Homo sapiens: one gene and its partners. The protein of the gene in region 1 interacts with the protein of each later gene in a biochemical or structural test. Each region holds a gene or a part of one and is shown in the gene's direction. Other genes may lie near its edges.

The links.
Region 2: the proteins of DCC (region 1) and LTF interact in a biophysical measurement, tested with the Homo sapiens proteins (one large-scale study listed by IntAct).
Region 3: the proteins of DCC (region 1) and IGFBPL1 interact in a biophysical measurement, tested with the Homo sapiens proteins (one large-scale study listed by IntAct).
Region 4: the proteins of DCC (region 1) and PSG7 interact in a biophysical measurement, tested with the Homo sapiens proteins (one large-scale study listed by IntAct).

What each region holds. Positions count from the first base shown.
Region 1 is NC_000018.10:52,750,606-52,758,578, forward strand, and holds part of DCC (netrin receptor DCC), read left to right. Parts: intron 1-1,448; coding exon 1,449-1,769; intron 1,770-7,973. UniProt on the Homo sapiens protein: Receptor for netrin required for axon guidance. Mediates axon attraction of neuronal growth cones in the developing nervous system upon ligand binding. Its association with UNC5 proteins may trigger signaling for axon repulsion.
Region 2 is NC_000003.12:46,433,012-46,440,365, reverse strand, and holds the end of LTF (lactotransferrin isoform 1 preproprotein), read left to right. Parts: intron 1-885; coding exon 886-1,070; intron 1,071-2,236; coding exon 2,237-2,426; intron 2,427-4,136; coding exon 4,137-4,171; 3' UTR 4,172-4,721; downstream 4,722-7,354. UniProt on the Homo sapiens protein: Transferrins are iron binding transport proteins which can bind two Fe(3+) ions in association with the binding of an anion, usually bicarbonate. Lactoferricin binds to the bacterial surface and is crucial for the bactericidal functions.
Region 3 is NC_000009.12:38,408,330-38,416,302, reverse strand, and holds part of IGFBPL1 (insulin-like growth factor-binding protein-like 1 precursor), read left to right. Parts: intron 1-2,099; coding exon 2,100-2,209; intron 2,210-2,949; coding exon 2,950-3,066; intron 3,067-4,753; coding exon 4,754-4,903; 3' UTR 4,904-4,912; intron 4,913-7,085; 3' UTR 7,086-7,973. UniProt on the Homo sapiens protein: IGF-binding proteins prolong the half-life of IGFs and have been shown to either inhibit or stimulate the growth promoting effects of the IGFs in cell culture. They alter the interaction of IGFs with their cell surface receptors.
Region 4 is NC_000019.10:42,920,880-42,928,928, reverse strand, and holds the end of PSG7 (pregnancy-specific beta-1-glycoprotein 7 isoform 1 precursor), read left to right. Parts: intron 1-2,212; coding exon 2,213-2,491; intron 2,492-2,901; coding exon 2,902-3,156; intron 3,157-4,104; coding exon 4,105-4,121; 3' UTR 4,122-4,797; downstream 4,798-8,049.

The sequences.
Region 1 (7,973 bases):
CGTAAGTTTTAGAAAAATTGAGTATGCAGGAACGAAGCAAATAAAACCAGGGAGAAACCGTAAGAAGCTGTTCTGCTTTCTCTTCACTGTAAAATGGGGTGTACAAAGATAGAAATAGTTCTGTCCATCAGGACCAGTATGAGTTAACCCCTTATGAGAATATGGATTACCTGCAATTTAGATGCCTGCCTTTTAAATGACAGAAGATTGGAATGATTTTACAAAGTACAACGAAAAGTGTTCCCATTACAGAAAAATGAAGGAAGCTAATGAAGTCAAGGTTGCTATCGTGGAAAAAAAAAATGAAGACTAAAACATAATTTAGGTGGTATTTTTTAAGAAATGAAATGCCATTTCAAACAAATAAAGGGCTCTTAAAGAAAATGTCCATCTCTTCTGCATTTTCACACAAGGTGTTTCAGGAGAAAATGGGATTAAACATCAGCAAGAAAATTCAGTTAGACTCTTAAAATGATTAAATATTGAAAACAAGATACCGAGGGACATTGTAGAATCTCTAGCCCCAAAGATTGTTCAAAATGAAATTGAAAGTAATTTGACTTGAATGATTTAAGTATACACCTGTCTGAGCAAATGGTGGAGCCAATGACCTCCTGAAACCTTGTCAAGGTCTTTGACTCAACATGTGAGTATTCTGTCAAATGCTATACTGCCAGCTTCAAAAACAATATACTTTAACTGATTATACTTGCTTCCTCCCCTCAAGATTCTTAAATGAATTTCTATTACCCTTGGTTGATTCTTTATGTTCATTTACGTTTATGAAACAAATTCAACTGTAATATTTATTTAGATTTCCAAGCCCATGAGAAACATTTGGATGAAAATTAAGACCCTTCAGGGATTTGTGATTTTAGGTAGTAGCTTTATTGACTTGCTTCTGCCAGTGGGATTTACCTATTTTAAAACCCACCTGAGCTTTGTCCTAAATAACTTTGCCCATGCTGTTCAGAGTTGACTTTTATTCTTATAGAACCCTGTATCAGATTGGATTTTTTAAAAATTTCAATGGATGCCATAATCAGAATGAAGAGATAGAAATAGTCTCCCCAAAAGTCTTAGCTACCACACTAATAACTATTGCTACTTTAAAATATCTAATTTTATTTGGAAAATATTAGTTTTTTCTGTCTAAATTTTCATGTACTGACTGATATGTGGTAATAAGCATGCCAGGATTTATATGAATTTGTAATTTCTCATAATATTAACTTTTGGAGCCAATTGTTTTCTTAATTATGATTACCTCGACTGGGTACTTTTTTGCTTATTTAACATAATATCCTTGATTTTAGTTTTTATTTATTCTTGGACATTGTTCAAAGCCCTCAGCTTTTGTGAAAAGCTTTGTAAAGAAAAGACAGGGAATCTAAGCCTGAGATTTATTTGAATACATGAACATATTTCCCTGTGCTCTCTTGTTCCAGGTTTTCAAATTAAAGCTTTCACAGCACTGCGCTTCCTCTCAGAACCTTCTGATGCCGTCACAATGCGGGGAGGAAATGTCCTCCTCGACTGCTCCGCGGAGTCCGACCGAGGAGTTCCAGTGATCAAGTGGAAGAAAGATGGCATTCATCTGGCCTTGGGAATGGATGAAAGGAAGCAGCAACTTTCAAATGGGTCTCTGCTGATACAAAACATACTTCATTCCAGACACCACAAGCCAGATGAGGGACTTTACCAATGTGAGGCATCTTTAGGAGATTCTGGCTCAATTATTAGTCGGACAGCAAAAGTTGCAGTAGCAGGTAGGTGGATTCTTCCTTCTCTTCCTCCTCCTCCTTCCTCTCTTCTTCTTATTCATTTTTGGGGATGAGAAAATAATTTTTGTAGAAATAATGTACATTTTAAAAATCTTTTAAATTTTAAGTTGACAAGTAATTATATATTTTTATGAAGTACAATGTCATGTTTTGATGTATGTATACATCGTGGAGTGATTATATCAAGCTAATTAACATATCTGTCACCACATACTTCTCTCTTTTCTGTGGTGAGAACATTTAAAATCTACTCTTTTAGCAATTTTGATATATACGTTGCTGTGCAATAGATATTAAAAGCTTATTTCTTCTCTCTCACTGAAACCTTGTGCCCTTTGACAAACATCTTTCCATTCCTTACCACGCCCCATCTTCCCAAGCCTCTGGTAACCATTCTGCTCTCTAGTTCTATGAGTCTGACTTTTTTATAATAGATTCTACCTGTAAGTGAGATCATGCAGTATTTTTCTTTCAGTGCCTGGCATGTTTCCCTTAGCATAATATCCTGTAGGTTCATCTATGTTATCACAAATAACAGGATTTACTCTTTTTAAAGGCTGAATAGTATTCCATTGTGTGTGTGTATGTATATCATATATACACACACACACATATATATATATATCTCATATTTTCTTTACCCATTCGTGATTGATTCCACATCTTGGCTGTTGTGAATAATGCTGCAATTAACATGGAGTATAGATATCTCTTATATACCCTCATTTCAATTCCTTTGGATATATACCCATAAGTAGGATTGTTGTATCATATGGTAATTCTAATTTTAGTTTTTTGAGAAAGCTACATAACCATTTTTCATAATGGCTATCTAATTTACATTTTCACCAACAACGCACATTTTTAAGAAAAAGGAAAGATGTAAAAAGATTCATGTTTATTCTGTCATGGATTTGACTGACCTTTCTCCTTAAATTATCTTAGAAAACAGTCATAGGACCTCAACTGGCTGCGTAAAGTTATGAGATTATTTTTTTAAACAAAACTGTTTCAAGTTGACTTACTACTTATATCTAAGGGAGGACTTCTCATTAACAGAAAAATATTAGAAAATATAATTTGCTAATTTTACTTTACAGCTTCATTAAATGCTAAACTTTTGCAGAGTCCATTTTTTTGTTGTGGGGCCTTAAGAAGAGTAAATTTTATTTTAATTATAGTGGCATGGCCTACAACATATACATGTCAAGTAAGAAATAAAAATTCCTTCTAGTGCTTCCAAATTTCTTAACGCTTGGTAACATGTTGGCTCAACAGCTGAGTAATAAGATGAACAGTTTTTGTTTTCACCTGGATACACTGAAGTCATGTAGACTCTGAAAAAATGGTACTGACCATTCTGGAACCCATGATATTGCTATTTCTGCCCCACTCTTCTGGTTAGAAGGCAGCTCATAATTATTTCTGTTGGCCCCTGAAATGTTAGACCTGCAAAGTGAAGAATCAGTTTTTTTACTTGTTTCTATAAAGATTTGACCAAAACCTGTCTTTTTTTTTAACTTTTATATTGACCATAAAGCAAGGCAAGCAGATTGAACTTGAAATAAATTTAAGTTATGAATGGGTAAGCAGATTTGAAGGGCTGCTTTCAACGTAATCTTTAGTTCTCAATAAAAACAATATTGAATCATAGGCTGTTTAGTCATTTGTTATGGGTTTTCTTTCCCAGGTCCTACTTAGTCTAGTCTCATCTTGGAAGACTGATCAGAATAACTCATTTTCATCAATAACAGGACAATTGGGCAGAATCACCACTCCTTCATGCACTCTCCTAGTGAGGGTCTGAGAAAGTTGAAATCTGAAAGATGTGATTTTGTCAGGTGGTGCTATAAAGAATTACATCTCATAGATATGTGGTTAATTCCCATATGTAGCTTCAAACCACTCTTCTGTAGCTTTTCTCCACTAAGAACTCTGTAGACTGAATGTTTTTTCTCCCTAAAATGTGTATATTGAAATTCTAACCCCCAATGTGATAGCACTGGGAGGTGGAGCCTTTGAGAGATAATTAGATCATGGGGTGGAGCCCTCATGAATGTGATTAGTGCCGTTATAAAAGTAACCACAGAACACCCCTGCTCCTTTCACCATGTGAGGATACAATGAGACGTCTGTAATCTGCAACCCAGAAGAGGACCCTCATCAGAAACCAATCATGCTGGCACCCTGATCTCAGATTTCCAGCCTCCAGAACTTTGAGAAATCAATGTCTGTTGTTTACAGCCTACCCAGTCCAGATACTTTGTGATAGCCACCCAAACTGATGAAGGCAGAGTTTTCCATAGTCAGTTAAGCCAGATTTTACCTAGAGGTAGACTGGCTAGCCATTCTGCTTTTCTTTGGACTGACTTGGCTTTTGCACTTGAAAGTCCCATATCCTGGGAAGCCACCTCAGTGCCAGGTAAAACCAGGACAGTGGGTCACTCTACCTCAAAGTGTCCCTGGTCTGCTTTAGCAATGACAGACTGAGGTGCAGATGCAGAAAACCCCCTCTACTCAGGAGACAGGCCAGGTGACATCCTGATGGTGAAAATCAAGGCTATAAAGTAACTGGAACCTTGGAGTGATGAGTGTCTGAAATTTGATTGATGAGTATAAAGTGTAGAGAGAACTGAATGTTAATGTTAATTATGATTGATTAGGAGAAACAAGTGGAATAAATCCTTCAGATTTGGTAAAAGCAGCTTTCTCAGAATGCTCCAAATGAAGTGGAAAGGGGACAATTTGACTTTCAGTCACTAGAGAATTTCTGGCCTCATAGATCCCACCCATCAGTTGTCCACAAGGCCAGAGGAGGTCTGCTGATTTGAATGAAGCAGGCTGATATTTTGATGCCTTATTATGAAAGGCAGCTGCCTATGCACTGTTAATGAAAATGGCCTGTTACATTGCAGTTTCAGTCTTCATGCAATCTACATTCACATTTACATGTGCTGTCTTTCAGTAGTGAAATGAAGAAGAGTTCCTTCGCTGTGAGATATTAAAATACAGTGGCTTGGACTTTAGTATTCTGTACAAGGATAGGCACACGGATTCAGTCACTGAGTTAAAATCTCATATTAGATTGTATCATTTCAAGGCAATAAGGCTGTTCACAGCATTTTAAACACTTACCATGCTGTTTGGCAACACAGAATACATCAATGTTATGTCTGCTGAGGTTAAGATTGCCAAACCACTAGAATTCACAAGGGGCATATATCTTCCCAGTAATAAAGACCATGGACCTGATTTAATCTCAGTTTTAAAGCATTAGCACTCAATAAACCAGTCACCACTAAATGGTAACAGTAGGCTTTGCTTGGGTAAAACAACAACAACAAAAAAATGTTTTGTACTCTCAGGTGCTGTATAGAGCCCATATTAAATAATGTCCCTCTTCCATTTTTGCTTTCTCAAAGTGTCTTTTGATAAAAAGAAGTGTAGCAAATGAAATCTGTCTTTAATCAGTCAGCACATTTTACACAATGATCTTGCCATGCACCATTCATCCTATTTTCTAGGAGCTTCTCAAGTGCTCTTAAAGGCTTGAGTGCACACTTGGCTGGAGAGGGAAGGAAAGTAGGAAAGATAAACGAAGAACTATCATTCCATCCAACATTTTCTTAAAAGTTGCAAAGTAACAGGCTACTGACTCTCAGTATTTCTAGTCATTTTGAGTTCTATCAGTAAAGAATACCTGGGCTATTAAGCCTCCATTTGAAAGCAACTTCATCATACTGGCTGAAATTTGGGAATTTTATTTTTATCCAATTAGCTCTAATCTAAAATGCTGCAGTGTTTCTGTGCCATGTATACTTCTATTTAGTCCTCTAGATTGAGAACAGCTGAAGAAGGGAAGCAGCGCTGAACTTATCTATGAAGCTTTCCTACCATCCCCTCTACTGTGTATCTAGCAAAGTATGTCATGTTAATAGTAGACATTTGCCTTACCAATGAAGACCTGGGGCTTTATGCCATATAAAGAGAGCTTTCCGCTGTTGCCATCCTCCTCTCTACCTCTCCTTCTTTGTCTCCCTTCTACTCCTCCTCCTTCTTCACTGGATTTCAGCAGATCAAACTCACCCATATATGTGCATACATAAACATACTCTTAACAAACTGAGTTGGAATAATTTGCTTTATATCTCAATAGCCTACAAATTAATTAACTATTGAAAACTTTGTGATTAGAAAATTGACTGTTTGGGAATATTCAAGTGCCACTTAAAAAGGAAAAAGCATGAGCATTTCTTCATTCCTTCCCTAACCCTTACCGTGAAAATGAACTTGCATCTGGCCAAGCACATCTTCCCTACTCTAAACGTTGCCAGCTATCTGAGCCTCTGGAGTATTTTCTGTTCAGCAGACATAATAATAACCTACCTCCCAAGGCTGTGGTAATTTTCAAACAACATCTAGGATGTAAAGCTCTAGTGCAGAGTAGATTCTTATTCAATGACAGCCATAGTATAAATAGAACTAACAATTATTATTATTGTGTTATTTTAATAATTATTAGGAATGAACAACTTTCAATATTCCCATGTGATGATGCAAAATATTTTTTTTCAGGGCAATGAAAAATAGGCAACAAATCCTGAGACATACATATTGTAATCTTGGATCAGATATCTGCCTTTGCAATCTGTGAACACAAACTGGCAAGCCTGAATTAAGTTTTCAAAAAGTTAAATCTATGGGAGATTTTTTGGCAAGCAGTGCCCAAATCCCTTGGAATAAAAGATTCATTTTTGACCACTGGATCTACTATTATGTTAATGCAATCAATACAGTTTGTACTGACCAGAGCAGGCGTTTGAGATTGAGTGACCTTGCAATCATTTCCAAAACATGTACAGGGCACTCCTCTCAGCCTTCTTAATGGCTTTTCAACTGAAAAAGATTCACTGAAGCTGGTTCATGGGAGTTCACTTGGTCTCGACTTGGAGTTTAACACAACTGGTACCCTCCTGGGGATGAGGAATTAATTCTAATATGTAAGAAGACTAGATAACAATAGATTTCCTATGAATAAACATAAAAATCCCATTTTATTTTGCTTTTTTATACAACCATGACCCCCTGTCCACCCTTCCCCACACCTACCCACCCACACAGCTCCTTGTCCACTGACTTGCCCTGCACACTCTAAGGAGCACGGTTGGAGCCTAAGTGGTACTTCTGCTTGCATTTATACTTCTGGGGATGGCGTGGGACAGGCTCCTCCAAGGGTAAAGCAATGTTGACTGCTGGATACATTATATTGTATTTGTGTCCAGGTAGATTTGTCTTTGTTAATTTTTCAGCATTTACATTTTAACATTAAAACCACTGACTTGCTTTTTATAGCAGTTTCTGCTTCAGAAAGTGAATCTCTATACATTACCTTGTAATGCTCAGAAACTGTGATTTAAGTACCCAAATTGACAGGTTAAGAACTTACTGGAAAAAGCTAAGAGCTCTATGGCCAGAGATTGGGACTTAGATAGTCTAAATCCAGATGCACACTTATTCCCTTATCACTTTGCTTCTCAATCTAAGGACTAGATTTCAGAACGCTGTAAACAATTTCTTATGTAATCAGTCATTTATTTTTAATCAATGAAACTCTCCACAATACAAATTAAGGAAAATAACAATAATGGTAATAATGATAATAATAATGAAAATCGATTTATCCACTTAGTCCCTTGAAAATGTCAACTCCTTGTGGGAAACACTATGATTTAGATGTTTTCTTCTAAGATGAGAAGATTTTGCTATCATAGCTATACATTCAATAGTGACACATGACAAATCTGTGTCAGAAAAACAGACAGCATATAATTTTTAAAATAAGCTCATAAATAATGATCTTTCTAGGAACACAATTTGGTAATCTTTTATCTTTCTAAGTGGTTTTACAATTCAGGCGAAGTTTGCATATTTTTTTTCTGCTTCTTAAAAATCAAGAAAATAAAAGGCCAACTAAATTGCATTTCTTGACTTGTTATTTCATTCAGGGACATATTTTTTTCTTCCCTATTACAATAGATGTTCAAGATGCAAATTGTCACACTCTGCTTTTAAATAACACCTGCATTATAATTAAAATTCCCCTGTGTTTTTAAAAAATAATTAATTACTTGAGGAGTTGTTTCAGTGAATTCTCTTCTAGAATGCCTCCCATTTAAATGAGTTATGAAA
Region 2 (7,354 bases), on another chromosome or scaffold:
AAACCTATAAAAGTTCCTTTCCTTTCTCTGGTTACACTAATAGCATTTGAATATGAAAGGGAGGAGAAACCAATTTCTCCTTGAATGTAAACCATCTATTCTTTTTCTGGAACTCACTGAAAAATATGGCATAGGTGGAGGGTTTTCTTCTTTAAAAAAATAAGAACTCTAAACAGCTTTATTGAGGTAGAATTCATATACTAAAAAATCCACCCATGCAAAGTGTACAATTCAGTGATCTCCAGCACATTCACAGAGTTGTGCAGCCATCAACACAATCCAACTCTAGAACGCTTGTATCCTCCCATAAAGAAACCCTTGCACCTATTATCAGTCATTGCCCTATCCTTCTTCAGCATTGGCAACCATCAATCCACTTTCTGTCTCCATAGGTTGGCCTATTCTGGACATTTCATATAAATGGAGTCATATAATATGTGGTGGGTTTTTTTTTTTGAGATGAGGTCTTGCTATGTTGCCCAAGCTGGTCATGAACTCCTAGCTTCAAGTGATTCTCCCACCTTGGCCTCCAAAGGGCTGGGATTACAGGCATGAGCCACCGTGCCCAGCCTATTGTGTGGTCTTTTGTGACTGGCTTCTTTCACTTAGCATCGTTTTCGAGGTTCATGCATATTGCAGGATGTACCAGAACTTCACTCCCTTTTATTGCTGAATAACATTCCATTGCATGGACACAGCACTAATATTTGGTATATTTGAAGTTTGTACAGCTTGTGTAGGATGAAGCTCCTTCTCTGTTCCTCACATCACCACAACCCCAGTGTGTGCATTTGGGAGGTCAGTGGAATGGCCACACCCACCCAGAAGAGACTTCTTGGCTAAGCAGGGGAGGCGTGGATGATGCCACCTTCTTTTTCTCCCCAGGAAATAACAATGAGGCATGGGCTAAGGATTTGAAGCTGGCAGACTTTGCGCTGCTGTGCCTCGATGGCAAACGGAAGCCTGTGACTGAGGCTAGAAGCTGCCATCTTGCCATGGCCCCGAATCATGCCGTGGTGTCTCGGATGGATAAGGTGGAACGCCTGAAACAGGTGTTGCTCCACCAACAGGTATGGACCACAGGGCTTCTAGTGCTTTCTTAGCTGTGTGGGCTCATGTTAGGTGAGGAGATCACAGAGCTAGGTGCACCAGCCCACTCGATCCTCTCTAGTCCTCTACTTGAAGCTCATGGTGAGAGTATTGGCTTCATGCTGTGGCGTTGCCCAGAGTGTCAACAAGAACAACAGAGGCTTTTGACTCTGGGCTTTCTGGGACTCACTCCATTTCTGCTGAGACTCTGTGCCCTGGCCTTGTTGCCATCACTGCCTGGCTCAGAGGCTGTCTTTTTCCCTCCTGCTGTTCTTCTGGCAAATGAGGAAGCCACTGAGCCTTCCTCCCACATGCATTAGTATAGTGCTTTTTACTCAGGTGACATTTCCTGAACCTGGGCCGAGTGAACAGTGCTCTAGGCCAGGCCTCTAAAACAGCAAACTCAGAAGGTGCCCTATAGATTTAGGGCTCTCTAAATGTGATTTGAACGAAATCCCAAAATTTTCTTAAAATCTGGGATTTTATTAGAACTTCTATTTTTATCATATAACATCATGTCTCTGTGTGCTTTTGAAGAAAACAACTCAGGAATAACAAGACTGGCCACCATAACTGGCCTTTATGGAGCTCTTAATGTGCACACACAGTGGTGCTGGTGAGAGAGCTGCCGTGACTGAGGGGTTTGGGTCTCAGTCTCCCCACATGGGAGCCTGGGACAGAGCAGGAACTGTGTGAGGGAGGCAGGGTGACCGACCTGCACACTGAGCTGGTTAGTGGCTGAGCCTGGGTTTTCCTAGCAGCCTGCCTCTCTAGAAGAGCTGCATATTAGAATGTCCTGAGCAATTGACTTGTGAGGGCAGATCTCAAAACCCCTCCATTGTTGCCTTGTCACCCATAAGAAGTTGTATGGGAAAAGGTCACAGGTTAAGAAGGAAGGAAAGATGGCAGATGGTAGGAGGTAGGACCAGAAGTGGTGCGAGGCCTGGATGCTGCCCAAGGCGGGCCTGCCACCAGGAGTGTGGGGTGGGGGACTCCACTAAGGAGGTGGAATGACTCCAGAACTCAGCTCCTTCTGCCCCATGGTTTTCTCAGGGCTGTTCTTGGGTGGAAGAAATACCCCTTTGCCTCCTTTAACCCATAAATTCCTCTTTTCCTTAGCTACTCACTGTCTGCCCTTTTGTCGCAGGCTAAATTTGGGAGAAATGGATCTGACTGCCCGGACAAGTTTTGCTTATTCCAGTCTGAAACCAAAAACCTTCTGTTCAATGACAACACTGAGTGTCTGGCCAGACTCCATGGCAAAACAACATATGAAAAATATTTGGGACCACAGTATGTCGCAGGCATTACTAATCTGAAAAAGTGCTCAACCTCCCGTAAGTAGACCCTAGCTAGCATCCCCGAGAAACCACCATGGGTGAAGGTCAAGGTTTGAGGGCCAAACAGCATTCTAGGAACGAACACAGGTGTAAAAATGTTAAGGAAAGATAATATCTCTTTACAGTTCAGGAAATTATAATCTCATTGATAAAATAATTAGAGAATAAAATAGAGCAGTATGTAATAAATTTTTATAAATTTTATAGTACGGATAGTGATGGCACTGTCATGAAATCTTTGGAAACTGATAATCCATTTTATTCAGTAAAATGAAAGGTGCATATATACATATGCATTGAGAAATGACAAAACCAGCCACGTGTGATGGCTCACACCTGTCATCCCACCACCTTGGGAAGCAGAGGTGGGAGGATGGCTTGAGCCCGGGAGTTTGAGACCAATGTGGCCAACACAGAGAGACCTTGTTCTACAAAAATAATTTTAAAAATTAGCCTGGTGTGGTGTCAAGCACCTCTAGTCCCAGCTACTTGAGAGGCTGAAATAGGAGGATTGCTTGATCCCAGAAGGTTGAAGCTGCAGTGAGCTATGATTGTACCACTGCACTACAGCCTAGGTGACACCGAAAGACCCTTCCTCAAAAAAAAAAAAAAAAAATCTGATTCTAGACAGTTACCATAGATGCCAACTATAGAGAAAACAAAATCTCAAAAAAATTCAAGTGTAGGAAAACACATCTTAACCAGGGAAATATGTTGATATTAATTTAATCCCTTAAAAATATTTAGAAGACATCACAGAGTATTGTAAGGCTCCCGGTGATAACTGTGGGATTTCAGTGTGCACAGCTCCCTGTGCACTGCAATCATTCAGATTCCTATTCCTGGTCCCTCACCCAGAGTTGGGGGCATTAGGGATGCTGTTGGTCCAAGGATGGGGGCAGGGCCAGAAATGTCTTTATCGGTAGTTTTCAATGAGAGACAATTTTTCCCCTGAGGGGATATTTGACAATGTGAGAAGCATTTTTTTGATTCTTACAACATAGAGGGTGCTGCTGGTAACAAATAGGTAGAGGCCAGGGATGCTACTAAACAAAGCACAGCCAGCCCCCTGCAATAAAGGGTTATTATCAGGCCCCAAATGTCAATAGTGCCAAGGTTGAGAAACCCTTTTCTGTATTGACAAACAACTCAGGTCACTGTGATGCAGGTCAGGACCACCCTCTGAGAAATATGGCTACAGGGCTCTTCTTGTGAGCAGCCAGCTCAGGACTGCATAGACCACATGCTTCTTGAGGGCAGGCCAGTCTATCCATGCTGTGTCCCCAGCACTTAGCACAGCAACTCACACAAAGCAGGTGCTCAGTAAGGATCTGTGAATGAATGAGTGAATCTGCAGGTGAACATGATTGCAAACAGGTTCACATTCCGGGAGAAGCTAGAGGACCACCAATGTCTTGTGAACTTGAGAATGTGACAGTCGATTCAATCAGAGACAAGTGCAGGGTGGTTGTGTCTCTCAGGCCAGAGCAGGGAAACACCCTGGCTGGTGAGGGCTAGACTCTGGCTCCCTTGAACACCGTAGTCGCTAGGAGTAGGGGAGTGGGAATATGAGTGTGGCAAGCACTGACTCAGTGATGGGAGAAGGGCAGAGAAAACTCTTAGTATTCTCTTTGATTTATTGGATTAAATAACTGGTTTAATGGAAGAAATCAGTTTCTGAATCTCTTGCTCTGTTGTGTCCCACAGCCCTCCTGGAAGCCTGTGAATTCCTCAGGAAGTAAAACCGAAGAAGATGGCCCAGCTCCCCAAGAAAGCCTCAGCCATTCACTGCCCCCAGCTCTTCTCCCCAGGTGTGTTGGGGCCTTGGCCTCCCCTGCTGAAGGTGGGGATTGCCCATCCATCTGCTTACAATTCCCTGCTGTCGTCTTAGCAAGAAGTAAAATGAGAAATTTTGTTGATATTCTCTCCTTATAAAGTGTCACTCATCTTTTCTAGAATTTTATACTGAAATCACATGCCTGACAAAATACCTGTACAGTTGGACCTTCCCTTCCAAGTTTTTCAGGTCCAGCCCCTCCTCTTTCTTGCAGTCTTGGGTATGATGCCCAAGGGTCTGGAATTTAAGGCCAGGCCAAGCACCGGTTTTCCTAAGGGGATCTTGTTGGTTATTCACATAGCTGTCTCAGTGCACGTGCATGTATGTGCCTGGGAGTGTGTGCGTGTCCCCAAGGCAGGGCAGGAAGAGCAAGCATAGGAATTATAACTGAAATGTAGGTTCAGTTGCTCATCACTTGCAGAGTCTAATTAACAAGAGCTAGGTTTGGTATAAAGTGACTTTTATTCCAAAGCTACCTTAGGGGAAGAAGTACAGGCTTCTTTCCTTAAGGGTAACTGCTTCACCTTTGGAGCAGAAAGCAGAGGCTTTTAAATGGGGGGCGTGGCATGCAAGGCAGGAAGTGAGCAGGTAGAGGGTCTGGGTACTGGCTTTGGTGCCTTGTCTACCAGGCAGTTGAGTTGGTTACTGCTGGTGCCTTTGTGGGCAAAACTAGGTTGTAAAAGCAGCCAAAAAATTTCCAGATGGGAGAGTTTCATAGCGGGCATATTTTGGCTTGTGAATTGACTGTTATGTCTCAAGGTAGTCTCTTGGTGGGAGAGAGTTCTGCTCTGTAGCGTCTAACTAAGAGCACATAGTTAGATGAACTTGCCCTGTTGGGAGTGTCTGGTGAAGGGGAGATAAAAGATTATAATTGCATTTCTAAAGAGCTAAGTAGGAAGCAGAGAAAAGGAGAGAGAAGTGAAGACAGAATAATTTTAAATAATGAAGAGAGAAATGAAGAAGGAATAATTTTCCTGCTTTTCCATTGGTTCTTTGGACATAACAGGCAAAAGTGTCAATCAGGGTGAGACTGTTCCTTCAAGGGCAGAGATCAGACAAGTGTCCTGAAACTCTGCCTCCATTGTGGGGGCAACCATTTGGCCATGTTCCCCACTGTCAGTGAGATGAATAGCTCTGCTGCTGCCTGCAAAAGCCTCTGAAACCTGTCAGGAAAGGACATTAATTAAGGTCCCATAATGCTAGGATGAAGCTCTTTTCCTATTTGCTACTTTGAATTATGGCCTGATATGTTGTCCATCCTCACTAACATGAGAAGATTAGTCAGTGAGCAACATCTGATGGGGTAGCCACAGCAGTGATAATGCCAGCACTCTTAAACATGACATTTGAACAGTATGAACTTTCTTGTCTAAATAAGATACTAAAGTGAAATTGAGGCCCACCTATGAAATTCTCCTGTTCCAGGTTGAAAAGAAATGGAACATCGCTGTGTCTCTCTGTTCACGCTAGGTTATATTGCTGTAGCAAATGGCCTCCAAATCAAAATCTTAGTGGCTAACATGACAAAAATGTGTTTCTCTCTTGTGTCCATCTCCATCATGGGTCAGCAATGGATCTGTGGCTCATGTCTTTATTCTGAGACCCAGGCTGAACCAGCAGCCCCAATTTTGGGCATGTTGGGCTTGAGGCAGAGGGGAAAATATAAGAGACAGAGGCAGCTGCTCTGCCTATGGAGTGCTATTCTTTTATTCCTTTATTTTCTTAATAAACTGCTTTAACTTAAAAAAAAGAGACAAAAGCATCATACAATAATACTTACAGTGTCTGCTTGGCAGAGGCCATATCATCTTTATCATTTCATTGGCCAGAGAATTCACATGGCCACAACATCAGTGAAGTCGCCCAGGAGGAAGGGGCAGTGATAGAGGACTGGGGTTAGTGCAACAGTGCAAGGAAAAATCTTCAGAGCATTTCATAGTGCCCAGCCAGAAGGCCATCACAGGAATGTCCCACCCACCCACAAAGGCTTCTCTGCAGTCCTAGAGAGGTGTCCTTTGCCCAGGTCCCACCCCCTTCCCAGAGCATGGCCTGGTAGGTGTGGCTGGATCTCAGTCCCTGTGTGCCACTCACCAGGATGGTTGGGCCTCTGCCTGCACAGCTGCACAGGCCACCCCAGAAACAGAAGATTGACTAGATGCAGGATGCTTCCTGTGATATTTCACAATTTATCCTGCATTAATGATATTTTCCCATACAGAGAACCATGCAGTAGTTCCCAAGGTTGGGTTCCCTGAGGGGGAATCATTCATATTTGATTTCAGAAACCCTCCCTTCAGGCCATTGCTAACTTTTGCTGTAACACCAGTCACTCTCTGAGGTTCAGTAACAGCTTCATCTTCCTCACCCTGTGCCACAACTTTAAGACTGGTTTGGGCACATCCTCTTATCATTTTTGTGTATGTCTCCTGGGGTCTCTAAGTCCCAAATCTTTCCTTAAAAAGTTATTTCTGTAGAGCACCTGATTCTGTCATTGTTCAGGTTGCCACTATGTAACCCACATGGACCTAGGGAAACTGAACAAAGGGGGCAAACGTGGGAATAAAAGACAAGAGACAAAAGAGTATATTTGGAAGAAGCGGTCAGGGGGCACTTTGCCTCTAGTGGACAAGGGCCCTGAGCTTTACACAACCCTCCGTAGTGATTAGACAAAAGAGATAGTGAGAAGGGGGGTGTGGAAGAAGGGATCAGCTGCTCAGTCCACAGTAGGCTTGCAAGACTGCATTCTCCAGATGTCCCAGTAGATAACCTCAAGGAGCCTGGTGCCAGGAAGTGATTGCCCTCAGCAAACCTTCTGGCAGTGGGAGCAGTCGTGAGTTTGCCCACATCCTGCATTCATGATAAACAGTTTGCTGTTTTATCATATAGCCTCCAGTGGAATGATGAGTTGGTCAGTCCCACGAGCCTTAGGCTCCCTAAATATCCCCCTTTCTGTTTATGAATTAATTGAAAGAATGTAAGGCCAGGGTGGGCAGCTCTCATTTTCCGATTGGTGGTCCATCCAATTTTACAGGCTATGAACAGAAGACAGAGACAAAACAATATTATTCCAAGAACTACATGTAAGATG
Region 3 (7,973 bases), on another chromosome or scaffold:
TTACTCATTTAGGCCTGAAAGGGATTGATGAAATCACATTTAAAATGTATGACTTTACATGAACAAAAGTAAACCAGGCTGATTGAGAGTCCCCTTGGTATCCAGGTCTTTCTGACTGTCACCACAGCGAGCCACTGGAGCACTGGTTTGGGCTTCCCTGGAGGCGGCATCCCAGCGCTTGTGTGGTTGGGGAGGCGCTGGCGGGACAATGTGAATAAATTAGACTGTCTTTGTCATCACAGATGGGGCTCCTGCCGGAGAGCTCAGTGTTGTGGCTCTCTGTGGCTGTCAGGCAACGTTAGACATCTAGGATCTTGGTTCCCGGGGCTTTGGCTACATTCAGGCACATGGGTTGGGCACCACCCTTCAGAGGGCCCTCAGATGGGTACAGCTGAATGAGTGGGTGGATCAGATAGAGGGGGAGGAAAGCAGCCTGGGATGGGGAGGGCAGTCTGTATTCAACTCACTGGTGGGCTGCTGGGACACCCAGGGGCTATGGGGCTCCAGAGGGCAGCCCCAGGATCAACAGGTGGGAGTTACAGGCTTTAGCTCTAGGTGAGGATGCACCTTCTTACCAGTGGAGCCCTCCAAAGACAGAATGGCCTGGCTCCGTAGGTGGTGAGTTCTCCATCCCTGAAGGCATGCAAATGGAGGCTGTGCGAGCATGTCATACGTGGTCAGGCACAGAATCACAGAGAATCAGGATGCTAAAGAGCCTCTCTAGTTTGAGACTGTGGCTCTAAGGCGATTTTCCAGAGATTTTTTGGCACTGGCTTGACAGGGTCTGCTTCCCAGTCTGTCTGGAGGGGCCAAACTAGTCTCCTTTCTGCACCCTGATCCTCCTGAGCATTGGGGTGTGATGCGACGCTGTCCGTCACCTCCTTCCTCCTGCCTTCTGTCTCCTCCCTTTGCTCTCCTTTTGTATTGCAGCCTTATCCAGGTGCAGTCTTGTGGAGAACAACAGGGCTGTCCTTGAGTCACCAGGCAAAGCCCTAGGAGTTCTAGACTCTGCAGTTTGATGGCCTGGAAATGAACATGTTTGTTCCTTGATTTCTCATGTGTTTGTTCATCCAGTCATCCTTTTGCTCCTGGCCCTCACTTGCATATCACATTAACTTACACTTTTCACTCATTCCATGGTTAGATCAGCCTGACCGCCCTAGGAAGCAGGGGTGTGATCCCCACCTTATAGATGACAGCTGGGTGGGAGCATTCCCTGGCCAGGCCTCTACACTGCACGTTGCCCAACACGCTGTGGTGCTGGATGCCAGGGTGGCTGAGTTGCTGTCCAATGCAGGTGAGAGCAGGTAGAAACGCCTGGCCTTGATTATTCCAGCCCAGTGTGAGCAGAGCAGATGCCAGGCATGGGGAGGAAGGCAGAGTGTGGAGTAGGAGTTTGAAACATCTAACACTGGGTCCTGTCCAGGGAGCCCATACCCTCCCTCTCCTCTCCGTCATGTTCTGGCAGTCTAGAACCACATTTCCCTGATTCCCTGATTTGCCCAGGCTTGGGTCGGCTTCTGGGGATGGGGAGGCAGAGGGAGTGGGGGAGCCCTGGGGAGTCTTTACCCTGTGCATGCAAATGGGCATCTTGAATGGACCGCAGGGGATTGAGCTCCAGGGTGTGTGCAGCTGTTCTTCCTGGCATTCTTCTTCCTAACACCCTCCACGTGGAAGGAGAAAAGCCCATCTGTTAGAAGACTCTGCCGTTGGTGGCGTGACACCAGCCCCTCTAGGAGTCGGCTGCCGTTTTTCCTGGTTGAGCTATAGCAGATGGCAGCCGGAGCCTGGAACGGACCCTGGGAGGGAGCACTGAGGCCCAAGCTCTGCCACAGATGGTGCTGGGGGAATTTGGGAAGTTGCCCTTCCCCTCTGGACCCCTGCTTTCCCATTGGTAAAACAATCATTGGATCAGGAGATCGGTCGGCAGCTTTCCAGGTCTGAGGAAATCTCTCTTTTAGGATTCCTGCCCAAGCGTGATGTGCCGCTCCCCTCATGTCAGGACATCACAGCGGGCTCTCCGCGGCAGGGGAATTTAGAGGTGGGTTGCTTGGAACCCTGCAGGGTAAAGGCTGCGTCTCCTTGTCTCCTCCTCCTAGCTCCTGTGGTCGTCGTTCCTCCCCGAAGTGTTCACAACGTCACCGGGGCGCAGGTGGGCCTGTCCTGTGAAGTGAGGGCTGTGCCTACCCCAGTCATCACGTGGAGAAAGGTATTTCTGTCCAAGAACTCATGCATCTCGTGTGTGTGTGTGTGTGTGTGTGTGTGTGTGAGAAAGAGGGAGAAACAGACGTGAGTGGTAAAAATGTTTTTCTTTTAAGTGTGTTTATATATATATGCCTTTATAGGTGGGCCAGAGGATGAAGAAAAGATATCATCTGTACCACTCCTCTGCCTCGAAACTTCTACCCCAAACCTCTCCCCTTGGAAGGGAACATTGCAACCCTTCCTGTGCCACTTACACCCTTGGCCACTTAGGGACCCAGAAAGCTGTGCTTTTACCCAGTCTGCTTCAGCTGCGGTGGCCATGTGTGTGTGTATCCTGCTTCACTTCGGGGCTGTGTTTCAGACAGACCTGGCTGGTGGCAGAAGACTCAGTCCTATTCCAAAACCAAATCTTCTAAAGACCAGTTTTTGAGAGACCGGCAAGGATCACAGCGAATGTTGTCCCCTTAATGTCAATAGCCCTGAGACAGGCGTTGAAATTCTGAATCTTTCTGTGGGATGGTGGTGATGTTCGGGTCTTTGCTGTCTGGCAGAGCGTGCTGTCTATATGTACAAGTAGGTTTAAAAAATGACTGATGTCATTTGCATAGGCATGAGCAGTGCTAGGGTTTCCGTTTTTGAGTCAGTGGGAGGAGGAGGAAGGAGGAGGGCAAGGAAGCCTATGGGATGGTCTTTATCCAGAATTGCTTTTTCTAAGCCCCCTCCTGGCATTCCTGTCCCCTGTAGGTCACGAAGTCCCCTGAGGGCACCCAAGCACTGGAGGAGCTGCCTGGGGACCATGTCAATATAGCTGTCCAAGTGCGAGGGGGCCCTTCTGACCATGAGGCCACGGCCTGGATTTTGGTGAGTGTTTAGGATTATTGGATATTATTGACTGACCATTATAAACCATCCTTTATATTTCTACAACACATTACATGTTTCAAAGCTGTTCTTACCCATTTCTCACTGGCCCCTCCAGTAACTGTGAGGCAGGCAGGGCAGGTTTCAGATCTGCTGGGAACATACGTGTTCTGCTGCCAGGGGCAGAGTGATGGCCCCACAGTGATGTCCACCACGTCCTCACCCCCAGAACCGTACGATGTTACATGGCAAGGTGGTGGGAGGGAGGTTGTGGTTGCTAAACAGCTGAGATAAGGAGATTTAAGATAAGGAGATTAGCCTGGATTATCCGGGTGGGCCAATTTAAAGGTGGGTCTTTAAGTGTGGAAGAGGGAAACAGAAGAGTCAGAGGCAGACTGAAGTGATTCGATGTGAGGAGGACTTGACCCACCATTTCTGGCTTTGATGATGTTGGAAAGGGCCACAGCCAAGGAGTGCCAGCATCCACTAGGAACTGGAGAAGGCAAGAAAATGAGTCTCCTGAGAGCCTTCAGAAAGAATGCAGCCCTGCCGGCACCTTGATCTTAGCCCCCTTTGGGCCTCTGACCTCCAAAACTGTAGAAAAGAAATGTGTTTGTTTTAAGGCACTCAGCTTGTGGCGATTTGTTACAGCAGCCCAAGGAACTAGTACACCTGCCTAAGGTCACCCGCTGGTAAAGGTAGAAGGTGGCACATTCGAGTCCTCCTCCAGAGCTCTTTCCTGCCACTCGCAGCACTTTTACCAAGATGAAGAATGCCACATGTTTGAAAGAGTGATGGAATGAGGAGATAGGGGTCCATGTTGGGTCGTCACTGTACCCTTCTGAGCCTCCATTTCCACTGTTGTTGAAAGAGGGCTTCAAACTGAAAGACCTCTGAGGGCCTTTGTGGCCCTGGCAGTCTGTGATTTACCTGTGAGTCTCCTGTAAAAAGAAGACCATAATGCTCACCCTTCCCCCACGACTGGCATGAGTTTAAAACGAGCTGATGTGCGTACACCAGCGCGTGGTCGGTAGGATGATTTGTAATTGATGGAAGCGGTTGGTTGTAACGAGAAAGCAAAAAAGACGCGAGCTGGTTATGGACCTGGCTGTGAACATCCTTGGGGTGCTCCCTAAGGACAACCTCCTCATTCCACCCACAGCTCTGGGAGGCTTGGTGACTCTTCTCCACCCAGCTGAGAGATTGGGAATGCAATTGGCTGTGCGGTTTTTTCAAATCAAGCACATTCCTCTATTTTCTTAGGAGAAAAGACAGGGAAAAGAGGTTATCTCTGGTGGTATTTTGTAGAGGCTGCCCCTATAGGGAATACTTTCTGGATCATTCTTTGGTCAGTAGATTTTTGTTCTTCTTTTAACTTGAGGTGTTTTCCAAATAACCTATACCTTGCACCTTTAATACAAAAGACCAGGTAGCTCACAGTAAAAGGCAGGTGTGCGGAGGAATCATTCAGATGAGAGCCACAATAGGGAGCGTGCCTTTCAAGAGGGTCCCTGGGAAGGAAATTTACCTGCGTGCTCCTTGGCAGCCAATGCAAGGAGAGAAATAGAGCAAGTTTTACCTTATTCTGAAAAGGAGGAAGTGTGCAGACTTATCATTAAGAACTAACTAAGGAAGTCATTTTGCTGTTCCTTATATAACTGTATAAACTTGCCTGTTGTATTTCTAGATCAACCCCCTGCGAAAGGAGGATGAGGGTGTGTACCAGTGCCATGCAGCCAACATGGTGGGAGAGGCTGAGTCCCACAGCACAGTGACGGTTCTAGATCTGAGTAAATACAGGAGCTTCCACTTCCCAGCTCCCGATGACCGCATGTGATGGAGAAATGTACATGTTCTAAGTCATTTTCAGTATTTTACACCCATGTTATGAGATATTTGAGGTGGCTTATAAGACCTGTAAAAAAAAGAAGAAAAATACGTAAATGGAGGAAACCAGGGAAAGAGCAAAAGAAGAGTAGGGACATACTTAGATGAGCAGTAGAATCCCTGGTATATTCTGCACACATCTCCCTCTGAGCTTCTTAGCATGCAAAGACAAGAGCTGTGAACATGATGTGTGTCCATGAGATGAAAAGACCAGTTGTGTTTTGGGGCTGGAGGGAATATTTCCTCTGTATTCTTCTAGAAAGAGCACTGAGAGAGGTAGCAGACAGTGTCATTGTGACAGCGTCCATGTGAAAATGTTCCCACAAAGAAGATGCCTGAGCTTCCTTTGTGTGTTCCTGGAGCTCTTCCTTGTTCAGGACACCTGAGCTTCCTTCCTGGGGCTCAGGCCTTGCCTTCCTGTCCTCAGCACTGTGTGCTGCTTTGCAACACATCTCCTTGTGGGTAGGGGCAGAGAGAATCTCTGCATCCCCTCTGGTCAAGGCCTCCTAGTCTGTAGTCACACAGGTGACAGCTGGGGTTGCATCTGTTCCTTGCCTACAGGTGAACTGGGAATTCGGGAAAGGGATCACTTTATAAGCCAGCTTTTGCTCATAAAAATCCCAAAATCTTGCTGGTTCACAGCCACAGACGTTGATCACTTGCTCATGTTCCATGTTATAGCTGTGAGCTGGCTGTGGCCCTGCCCCATGTGTCCCCTCATTCAGGACCCAGCTGGAGGAACAGCTCCAGTGTGGAACATGTCCGTTCTGTGGCCAGGCTGCACACACCATTGCATTTAAAGTTTCTGCTCGGATGTGATGTGTGCCCCGCCCATTTACAGACCAATCATTTTTTTTTTTTTTTTTTGAGACAGAGTCTCACTCTGTCACCCAGGCTGGAGTGCAGTGGTGCGATCTCGGCTCACTGCAAGCTCTGCCTCCTGGGTTCACGCCACTCTCCTGCCTCAGCCTCCCGAGTAGCTGGGACTACAGGCACCCGCCACCACACCTGGCTAATTTTTTTGTATTTTTAGTAGAGACGGGGTTTCACCGTGTTAGCCAGGATGGTCTTGATCTCCCGACTTCATGATCCGCCCGCCTTGGCATCCCAAAGTACTGGGATTACAGGCGTGAGCCACCGTGCCTGGCCTGCACGATCCTCTTACAGGAATGGGGGAGCAGTGGTGAACAGGCACCATTACCAAGGCTGATCAACAGGTGCTTAATAGAACAGGAAAAATTAGAAACAAGTCTGATAGGGTTTCTCAAAAGCAGGGGGATTTTGCCATGGTTTTAGTTATATTATTCTTTCAGCCACTACTGTTGCACACCTTCTGTGTGCAAGGCCTTACTTCTGGTCTGTAGGGGATCACAGAAAAACAAAAAGTGGACATAATTATAATACAAGGAGTGCGATGTAAGGGAATGGGAGGAGATATTAAGGCATGAAAAGCAGCTTAGAACTGGGGAAAATGAAGGAAGAATCATCGAGGAGGTGGCATGAGGATTGAAGGATGGGTGTACGTGAGTAGTTAGAGGCCCTAGAAATGGGGAGAAAAATATGAAAATGTAAAACTGTGAAATAGGAATTCAACAAAGAGTTAGGAGATTGGGTCTTAAAATTGTCTTCCTGATGATATGTGACTTGTTTTATATAGATATGTTTCCAGTTTTAAATATATATATCTATAATTTTCAAATACACGTATATTTTGAGGCAGAAATGATTCTGGGTTGTGAATACATCAAAAGGATACCATGAAAAATTGTGGAATTTTAAGAGCATCACTGCTGCCTAGGTCTTGAGTTCCTTCTGTGACACACAGTATTGCCAGCTCTGGCTTACATACCTCCAGGGATACAGAGCTCACTACCACTGAGAGCCATCTGTGGATTTTCCAATGGTTGAAAAGATCTTATTAAGCTGGAGTCTGCTGCTTTGAAACGTCCACCTTTTGGTCTTAAAAGTACTTCTTGGGACTCCACAGGGCCCTTCACTCTCCACTGGCACCATTTCCTGCTGGGGAGAGATTCGAAGTGAAGGATCATTTCCCCCACCTTCCATGTAACACATAGTTGATTGTAACGGAGCAGGCTTACGTTCTCTAATTCTTTCTCTCCTTTTCTTCCTAGGGTCTTAGAAACATTGATCATGGGATGATGGAAAAGTCAAATAACGGATCTTTGTGCTTCATGAAGAGTTGGAAAACCTGTGTGTGTAGATGACCCCTTTTGTGTGTTTTTAAAAATTAGATGCAAACTAGATCTGTATGCAGATGTAGTTTTTAGCAGGGCAAACAGTGAGAAACGGATTTGCATGTGGCTTTTTTATACTTTTGAAATGAATTGTTCCATGAGAAGTCTTTTTGTAATTATTCTCTTCCAGGGAGATCACAGAACGGCATGTTTGCAATTTCGAAAGGGCTCGTGTCAGCTGTGACTCTTTACCTCATTTGTCTATGACCTATTAGTGGTGCTCTGTGACTTAGTGTGTGTTGTAGAAGGAGGGATGAGGGTCCCAGCTGTCCTCTGCCTGACTGTAACTTGCTGTGTGACCTGAACAGATCCCTTCCCCTCTCTGGGCCCTGGTCCCTTCATCTGTGAGTATGGCATTTTAACTGGATGTTATCAATGTCCCTTTTAGCCCTGCCATCCTAGATTAAGATGGCCTTTTGGGAAAATAACAGGAAGTGTGGTCTTAGTGTTCTTTCTAAAATGGTATTCCCTCAGAAACAAATTCCATTGCTTTACCCCAACGTGTGGACAGCTGGCTGTAGCTCTTCTATTCCTAACTTTTTCCCTTTGAAGGAGATTTAGTTTTAGGTGGGATGCTTTACCAGACTCAGGAGCGCCTTGGCTGGGTCTTTGGAGACCAGAGCATCCATTTGTTAGCCTAGCATTCTCTTTTTTAAAATTTTATTTTGAGACAGGGTCTCGCTCTATCACCCAGGCTGGAGTGCAGTGGCGTGATCATGGCTCACTGCAACCTCCACTTTCTGGGCTCGAGTGATCGTTCCACCT
Region 4 (8,049 bases), on another chromosome or scaffold:
TTGATGGGAAGTTCCAGCAATCAGTACAAGTGTTCTTTATACCCCAATTCACTAAAACATATAGAGGGGTCTATGTCTCTTTCATCCATAACTCAGCCACTGGTGGAACAAATCTCATAATCAAGAGGATCATAGTCCCTGGTAAGTGGATCCCTGGAGCATTGGCAATATGTTTTCCAGGGAAGTCTATCTGGCTATCAGGGAAGAGCCACCTGCCCTCTGCAGAGGGAGAGGGAAAATCAAAACTCAGGAAAGGGAATATATTTCTGCTCCAAAACCACCAGGTTTTGCCTGTACCCTTCACTCTTTCTAGATCATTCTTCAGACTATACACTAACAATGAACAATCTGAAAAGAAATTAAGAAAATAATTTCAATTCACATTAACATCAAAAGGAATAAAATATTTTGGAATAAGTTTAACCAAAAAGGTCAAATGATTATACCCTGAAAACTACAAACCTTCCTGAAACAAATTAAAGATGATATCAATATATGGAAACACATTTCATTTTCATGGATTGGAAGAATCAATATTGTTAGAAAGAAAATACTACGCAAAGTGAGTTGCAGATTCAATGCAACCCCTACCAGCATCCCAGTAACATTTTTTGCAGAATTAGAAAACTCTGTCCTAAATCTGAGCTGACAGGCTCTTCTTAATGACTGCCACAACAAAAACACTGAGAAAAAGATGCAACCATGAAAAGGTGGAAAGTTCTCATGACATAGAAAATAGCAATCAGCCTTTCTCACATGCCAAGGCATTCAAAAATATACAAGTGCAGCATGGCCAGTATGGAATTCACCGAAAACTAATCACCAAGCTAGAAACGTGGTGAGAGAAAAAAAAGGGCAAGAATATCTTTGGCTTATCACCTCCCACTTATGCCTACTAATCTGATGCTGAAAAGAAATGCTCACTGAAGCATCTTAGACTTTGAATCTATCAGATTTGGGATGCTTAACCAGTAAGTATATGACAAATATTTCAGAATCAAAAAATGAAAGAAATGCAAAACACTTTTTGTCCTAAGTTGTAGGCATAAGAAATACTCCATCTTTGTGAACTATAGGCATCAAGCTCTACAGCAGATCTCTAGAAACTCCCCATCTTGCATAAAAGAAACTGCCCACCCATGAACAACTTCTGATTCTCCCCACTCCCAGCTCCTGGCAACCAGCAGTCTCTTCTCATATTCACTCTGGAATCCACTTACATGAGGTCCCTAGAGTAGTCAACCCCAAGGAATCAGAGAGTAGAATGTCCAGTGAAAGAAAATATTTGCAAAACTTCTCTCCAAATTTGTCTTATATCCATCAAACACACATGGTCCATGAGGACCAGATTTCCAGCAGTTCATTCCCACACTTTCCACCAGTCAGTTCTGCATTTGCAAATGTCCACATGTATTTCTGGAAAGATCCACATGGTCCTCACCTGCCCTCTGCAGAAGGAGAGGAAACTTAAAGAACCCAGGACAGGGAACATGCTTCTGCTCCAAAACCACCAGCTCTTGCTTGTCCCCTTCACTCTTTCTAGATCATTCCTTGCACTCTGCTCTATCTTTAGAGGTCACTGGTTCAAGTAAGTCATCATGAAACACCTGCAAAAAACTGCCCCACCTTGAGCCTCCACTGCCTGATGACTGAACTGACCTCCAGGCTTGACTATGGTCTCCCCTGTGTTATTTCTGCTGAAACATCCAGTCCCAGGCCAGGCTGCTCAGTATCTGCAGGGTTTCAGGACAATGGGAAGTCCCATTATTACTCATCTCTAGAATGTCCTTGGAAATGGAAGTTGCAGAGAAATCACATCTAGGGGGGCAAAGTAGGATGCAATTTGGAAAGGGCCCAGCAGTTGCACATTCCAGGTAATGAACCCAGGGTGAGCCAGCCAGTCAACTCATTAGTGAGGGACTGGGAGGGGTACCAGGCGCTGTGACTCCCACTGACATGTCTGTCCATGACCCAGCACTGCTGCTCAATTGACACTTGAGAAAGTCTATGCTTCCCTAAGACTGAGCAGGTGGCCTCACAGTCTTTGAGCCCTTAGATCATCATGCATCTACCTTGTGACACACACACCAGCTATTGGCTTTCAAGGACTCACACGTGTTGACAGGTGGGAGATGCCAACTCTAATTGAAGGATGCCTGTGGAGGAATCAAAGGTGCCACACAGGACAATCTTCTCTCTGTTATTCACACAGCGAAGCTGCCCAAGCCCTACATCACCATCAATAACTTAAACCCCAGGGAGAATAAGGATGTCTCAACCTTCACCTGTGAACCTAAGAGTGAGAACTACACCTACATTTGGTGGCTAAATGGTCAGAGCCTCCCGGTCAGTCCCAGGGTAAAGCGACGCATTGAAAACAGGATCCTCATTCTACCCAGTGTCACGAGAAATGAAACAGGACCCTATCAATGTGAAATACGGGACCGATATGGTGGCATCCGCAGTGACCCAGTCACCCTGAATGTCCTCTGTGAGTATCCTTGAGTATCCTTTCTTCCTCTGTGGGCCAGGACACCAGCTTAACTCCAAACGACCAGAGGCCAGTCCTCTCAGTCTCTCTCCGGTCCAAGTATAGACATATTTACTTCTGGACATCCGAGCTGGCCATGACTCCCTGCCCTGGGAAAACCTGGGTAGGCACAGCCTTAACCAAGAATATAAGGGGAGTGGACGCTCTTGTCATGGGAGACTTGGGGCCCACAGCTTGTGATGGGAGAAACAGGTGAATACCTCAGGCTTCGGCTCAGTGAACATAGAGGGGATTTGGCTGTCACTTGAGGGTGTGTCTCGGCTCAGAGGGTCACTCTGTCCCTTTAAGAGACCAGGAGCATCCCCTTCCCTCGGATAACATCACCTGTGGCTTTATTCTCTTTCCTCCAGATGGTCCAGACCTCCCCAGAATTTACCCTTCATTCACCTATTACCATTCAGGACAAAACCTCTACTTGTCCTGCTTTGCGGACTCTAACCCACCGGCACAGTATTCTTGGACAATTAATGGGAAGTTTCAGCTATCAGGACAAAAGCTTTCTATCCCCCAGATTACTACAAAGCATAGCGGGCTCTATGCTTGCTCTGTTCGTAACTCAGCCACTGGCAAGGAAAGCTCCAAATCCGTGACAGTCAGAGTCTCTGGTAAGTGGATCCCAGCATCCTTGGCAATAGGGTTTTAGGTGCAGTCTATCTGACTTTCAGAGAAAAGTCAGGAAAACATTTGTATTCCCAGCCTGTGTCCCATGGGCACAAGCAAATCCCAAATTTTCCTCCTGAACCCTCCAAATTTGTCTAAGAACTTCGAAAACTTTAACAAACAGGCTGATATCTTCATAACATTCCCAGCCTAGACCAAGCAGGAAAAACATTGATTTCATTGAAATAATTGATAATAATGAGGATAATGTTTTTATGATTTTTATTTGAAAATATGCTGATTCTTTATGTGGATAGTTTTCTAGATTTATGGAAATTTGTCTTTTAATCTATCTCTAGCTTATAGTGGTTCAATAAACTATACTTCTGGGAATGATAATTGAAATATTTACTTTTGCTCTCTACCTGAATGCCCCAGAATTGGGCAACTATTCATGAGTATTGATATGTTTATGGTAATACAGATATTTGCACAAACAGAGTAACAACCTGCTCTCTTTGTAACAGGACACATTTCAAATCATTGGTTATATTACCAAGGCTTTGACTGGGATGTTATATTTAAGAATATAGCTAGAATGAACCAGTATGAACTGCAGGCAAACTCTGAAGTCAGCCTTGGTTTGGCTTCCTATTCTCAAGAGTTTTGTAAAGGTTTAATCTGAGATTCCTTATAAAAACTTACAGCAAAGAAAATTTTAAAAGAGAGCCTACATAGTCCATTGCTACTCTTGCTGCACTTATGTAAACAATCAGACCAAGTTTGAAGAAACTCAACCTATTTTGCAAACAAACTTATTCTACTGAAATTATCATTGGTAAAACTAGAGATGCCCATAGAGAGAAAAATTATGTGGAAAATAAAACCGTAGTACACCTGTTATGAGATTGCAGCTCTGTTCATTGTTTCTGTGTTTTTATTATCCACTGTAGACTGGACATTACCCTGAATTCTACTAGTTCCTCCAATTCCATCTTCTCCCATGGAACCTCAAAGAGCAAGACCCACTCTGTTCCAGAAGCCCTATAAGTCAGAGTTGGACAACTCAATGTAAATTTCATGGGAAAATCCTTGTACCTGATGTCTGAGCCACTCAGAACTCACCAAAATGTTCAACACCATAACAACAGCTGCTCAAACTGTAAACAAGGAAAACAAGTTGATGACTTCACACTGTGGACAGCTTTTCCCAAGATGTCAGAATAAGACTCCCCATCATGATGAGGCTCTCACCCCTCTTAGCTGTCCTTGCTTGTGCCTGCCTCTTTCACTTGGCAGGATAATGCAGTCATTAGAATTTCACATGTAGTATAGGAGCTTCTGAGGGTAACAACAGAGTGTCAGATATGTCATCTCAACCTCAGACTTTTACATAACATCTCAGGAGGAAATGTGGCTCTCTCCATCTTGCATACAGGGCTCCCAATAGAAATGAACACAGAGATATTGCCTGTGTGTTTGCAGAGAAGATGGTTTCTATAAAGAGTAGGAAAGCTGAAATTATAGTAGACTCCCCTTTAAATGCACATTGTGTGGATGGCTCTCACCATTTCCTAAGAGATACATTGTAAAACGTGACAGTAAGACTGATTCTAGCAGAATAAAACATGTACTACATTTGCTAATACTGTTCTCTTAAAACAATTTTAAAAGAATGGGGTGGGCCCTCCCATGTGTCCAGGCCTGGTCTCTGAACAGAATCCTCCATCTGCAGTAACAATGCCTCAGAAGATGACATGGACTTGGTCCTGATATGCAGCCATTCCTGTATACCCTTCCCCTGCTTCAGGGTCGTACAAGCCCAGGGCCCAAATCTTCAGCTGCAGAGCTGAGAGAGAACATGGGATACCCAGCATCCCTTACCTTCTTCCAGTCCACTGCAGTGGCTACTGGCATGGCCCATGTACCCCTGAGGACACCCATCTGCTGACACACAGTTTCTAAGAGTCAGACATTCCTGGCTTCTATGAACCCCAGCTACTTTCACTCTGCTGAAACCTTCTACTCCGTACAGGAGTCATTGACTTAACAGACTCCTCTTTCAGTTGCAGCTAATAGGTAAGCCAAGACCCAGACCCCAGAGGATAAACAAGGATTTCAAAACCTACTGTGTCCAATGGAGATGCCCACTTGTGGGCGGCAAGCCACCCAGGTGCTGAGGCAAGAGACTCAGGGCATGAGCTGTTCCAGTATCATAAAATATAAAAGAAGAATAGTTATACCAGGTACAGATCTTAGATATGATTATATATGAATATCATTAATTGTTAGTTGGTAGCAATTACTCTTTATTCCAATATTATAATAATCCTCGCTTTATAATCATAACCTAGGAAAGGCCAGGCCATACAGAGATAGGAGCTGAGGAGACATAGTGAGAAGTGACCAGAAGACAAGAGTGCAAGGCTTCTGTTATGCCCAGACAGGGCCACTAGAGGGCTCCTCGGCCTAGCGGTAACACCAGCGTCTGGGAAGACACCCTTTGCCAAGTGGACCGTGGTCTAGTGGTAGCCTCAGTGTCAAGGAAAAACACCCACTACTTAGCCGACCGGAAAGGGAGTCTCCCTTTCCCCGGCGGAGTTTAGAGAAGACTCTACTCCTCCACCTCTTGTGGAGGGCCTGACATTAGTCAGGTCCACCCACAGTTATCCAGAGGCCTAACCGTCTCCCTGTGATGCTGTGCTTCAGTGGTCACACTCTTAGTCCGCCCTCATGTTCCATACTGTACACGTGGTTCTGCCATTTAGTTAGCAGTAGCAAATTAGTGAAAGTACTAAAAGTCTCTAATAAGCAGAAATAATGCTGTAAGCTCTCTCTCTCATTCTCCTCCCTCTCTCTGCCTCACCTGCCAGGCAGGGAAGGGCCCCCTGTCCAGTGGACATGTGACACAGGTGGCATTTCCTATCATTGAAGATGGCACACATTCCTTATCCTGCCCCTTTGTCTTCTATCCAATAAATATCAGTGCAGCCTGGCATTCAGGGCCACTACCGGTCTCCGCATCTTGGTGGTAGTGGTCCCCCAGGCCCAGTTGTCTTTTCTTTTATCTCTTAGTCTTGTGTCTTTATTTCCACAATCTCTCATCTCCACACACAGGGAGAAAAACCCAACGACCCTGTGGGGCTGCTCCCTACACCCACTGTACAGAGACATAAAGAAGTTGAGATGTATACAACTCCCCCAACAACACTGTATCCCAAAACAATGTCCTCTCTGCCCCTCATCGTGGAATTCACTGTCTCTCACCACATGGGCAAGTGCTTCCAGGGTCTCATAATTCTTCCACAAGAGGCAATGCACACTTTAACATAGCACTTCAGCAAATAAAGTGGTGACAGTTTACCTACTTAGATAAAGTTTCTTAAAAGCTTCTCCCAAATTTCCCCCTGAAGAAGAGAGAAAAGGCTTTCCCAATTGTGAAACATTGGCCTCCCCACCTTTCAAAAAAGTACCCCTGAGTAGCTAAAACAATCTTGCCAAAATAAATTGTAGGACTTGAACTTTCTTATTTGAAATCTCACAAAAGAGTACAATTATTAAAATGGAAGCTGCTGCCAAAGAATAGACATAAGCTGCTGGCAAAAGAATAGACATAAAGACAAATGGGATAGAATTAAGAATCTAGAAATAAACCCTCAAACTTATGGTCAATTACTCCTTGAAGAGGGTGTCAAGACAATTTAATGGATGAACAATTCTCCTTTCAAATCATAGTACAGAAACAACTAGATAACCACATGCAAAACAGTGAATTTAGATAACTCTGCCTCCCACCATATCAAACAATTCTCTAAAAAATTGATGAGTGAGTAAAATATAAGACCTATAACCATAAAAACATCTTAAACTAGACATAGAGGTAAATATTGATGAACTCAAATGTGTAATGGATTCTTAGATATGATACAAAAGCATGAGAAACAAGAAAAACAAGATATGTTGGGCTTTATCAAGATGTGAGCCTTTTGTACATCAAAGGAAATTATCAAGAAAATAATTAATAGAAAAGAATGAAAGAAAATATTTGCAAACCACATATAGGCAGTTTTCATATCCAGTTAATATAAAGAACTAGCTAAAACTCAATAACAAAAGGACAAACCATCCAATTTATAAATGGGCAAAAGACTCATATAGACATTTCTTCAAAGAAGATATACAAATAGTCAAGAAGGACATGAAAAGATACTCAACATCTATAGTCATTAGGAAAATACAAAGTCAAAGCTGCAATGAGACACCACATCACACCTACAAAACTGGCTACCATTCTTTTAAAATGTTAAACAACAAGTAGCAGCATTATGTAGAATTTGGAATCCTCATACATGGCTGGTGAGAATATGAAAAGGTACAGCCACTTGGAGAAAGAGTTTTGCTGTTCCTCAAAAAGCTAATCATAGAATTCTCATTTGAAACAACAGGCATTCCTAGGTACATACCCAAAGAATTAAATCCAGGGCCTCAAACAGGTACTTGCATGGGAATGTTCATTGCAGCATTATTCACAAAAGATAAAATATGAAAATAATCCAAGTGTTCATCAACACATGAATAAACAAATATGGTGACACATACAACAGATTGTTAACCTGCCATAAAGAGGAATGAAGCTCTGACACCCACTGGAACATGCATGGACTTGGGAAACATTATGCTAAGTGAAATATGTCAGAAACAAAATAACATAATTGTATAATTCCATTTATATGAAACATCAAGAATAGGCAAATTCATAGAGAGAGAGTGGAGATGATCAAGGTCTAGGGTGGAACATACAGGGAGGTATTGTTTAAAAGTGACAAAGTTTCAGTTTAAAATGATAAAAATTTTCTAGGAAAAATAGTGGTGATGGTAATTTAACATGGTGTATGTGG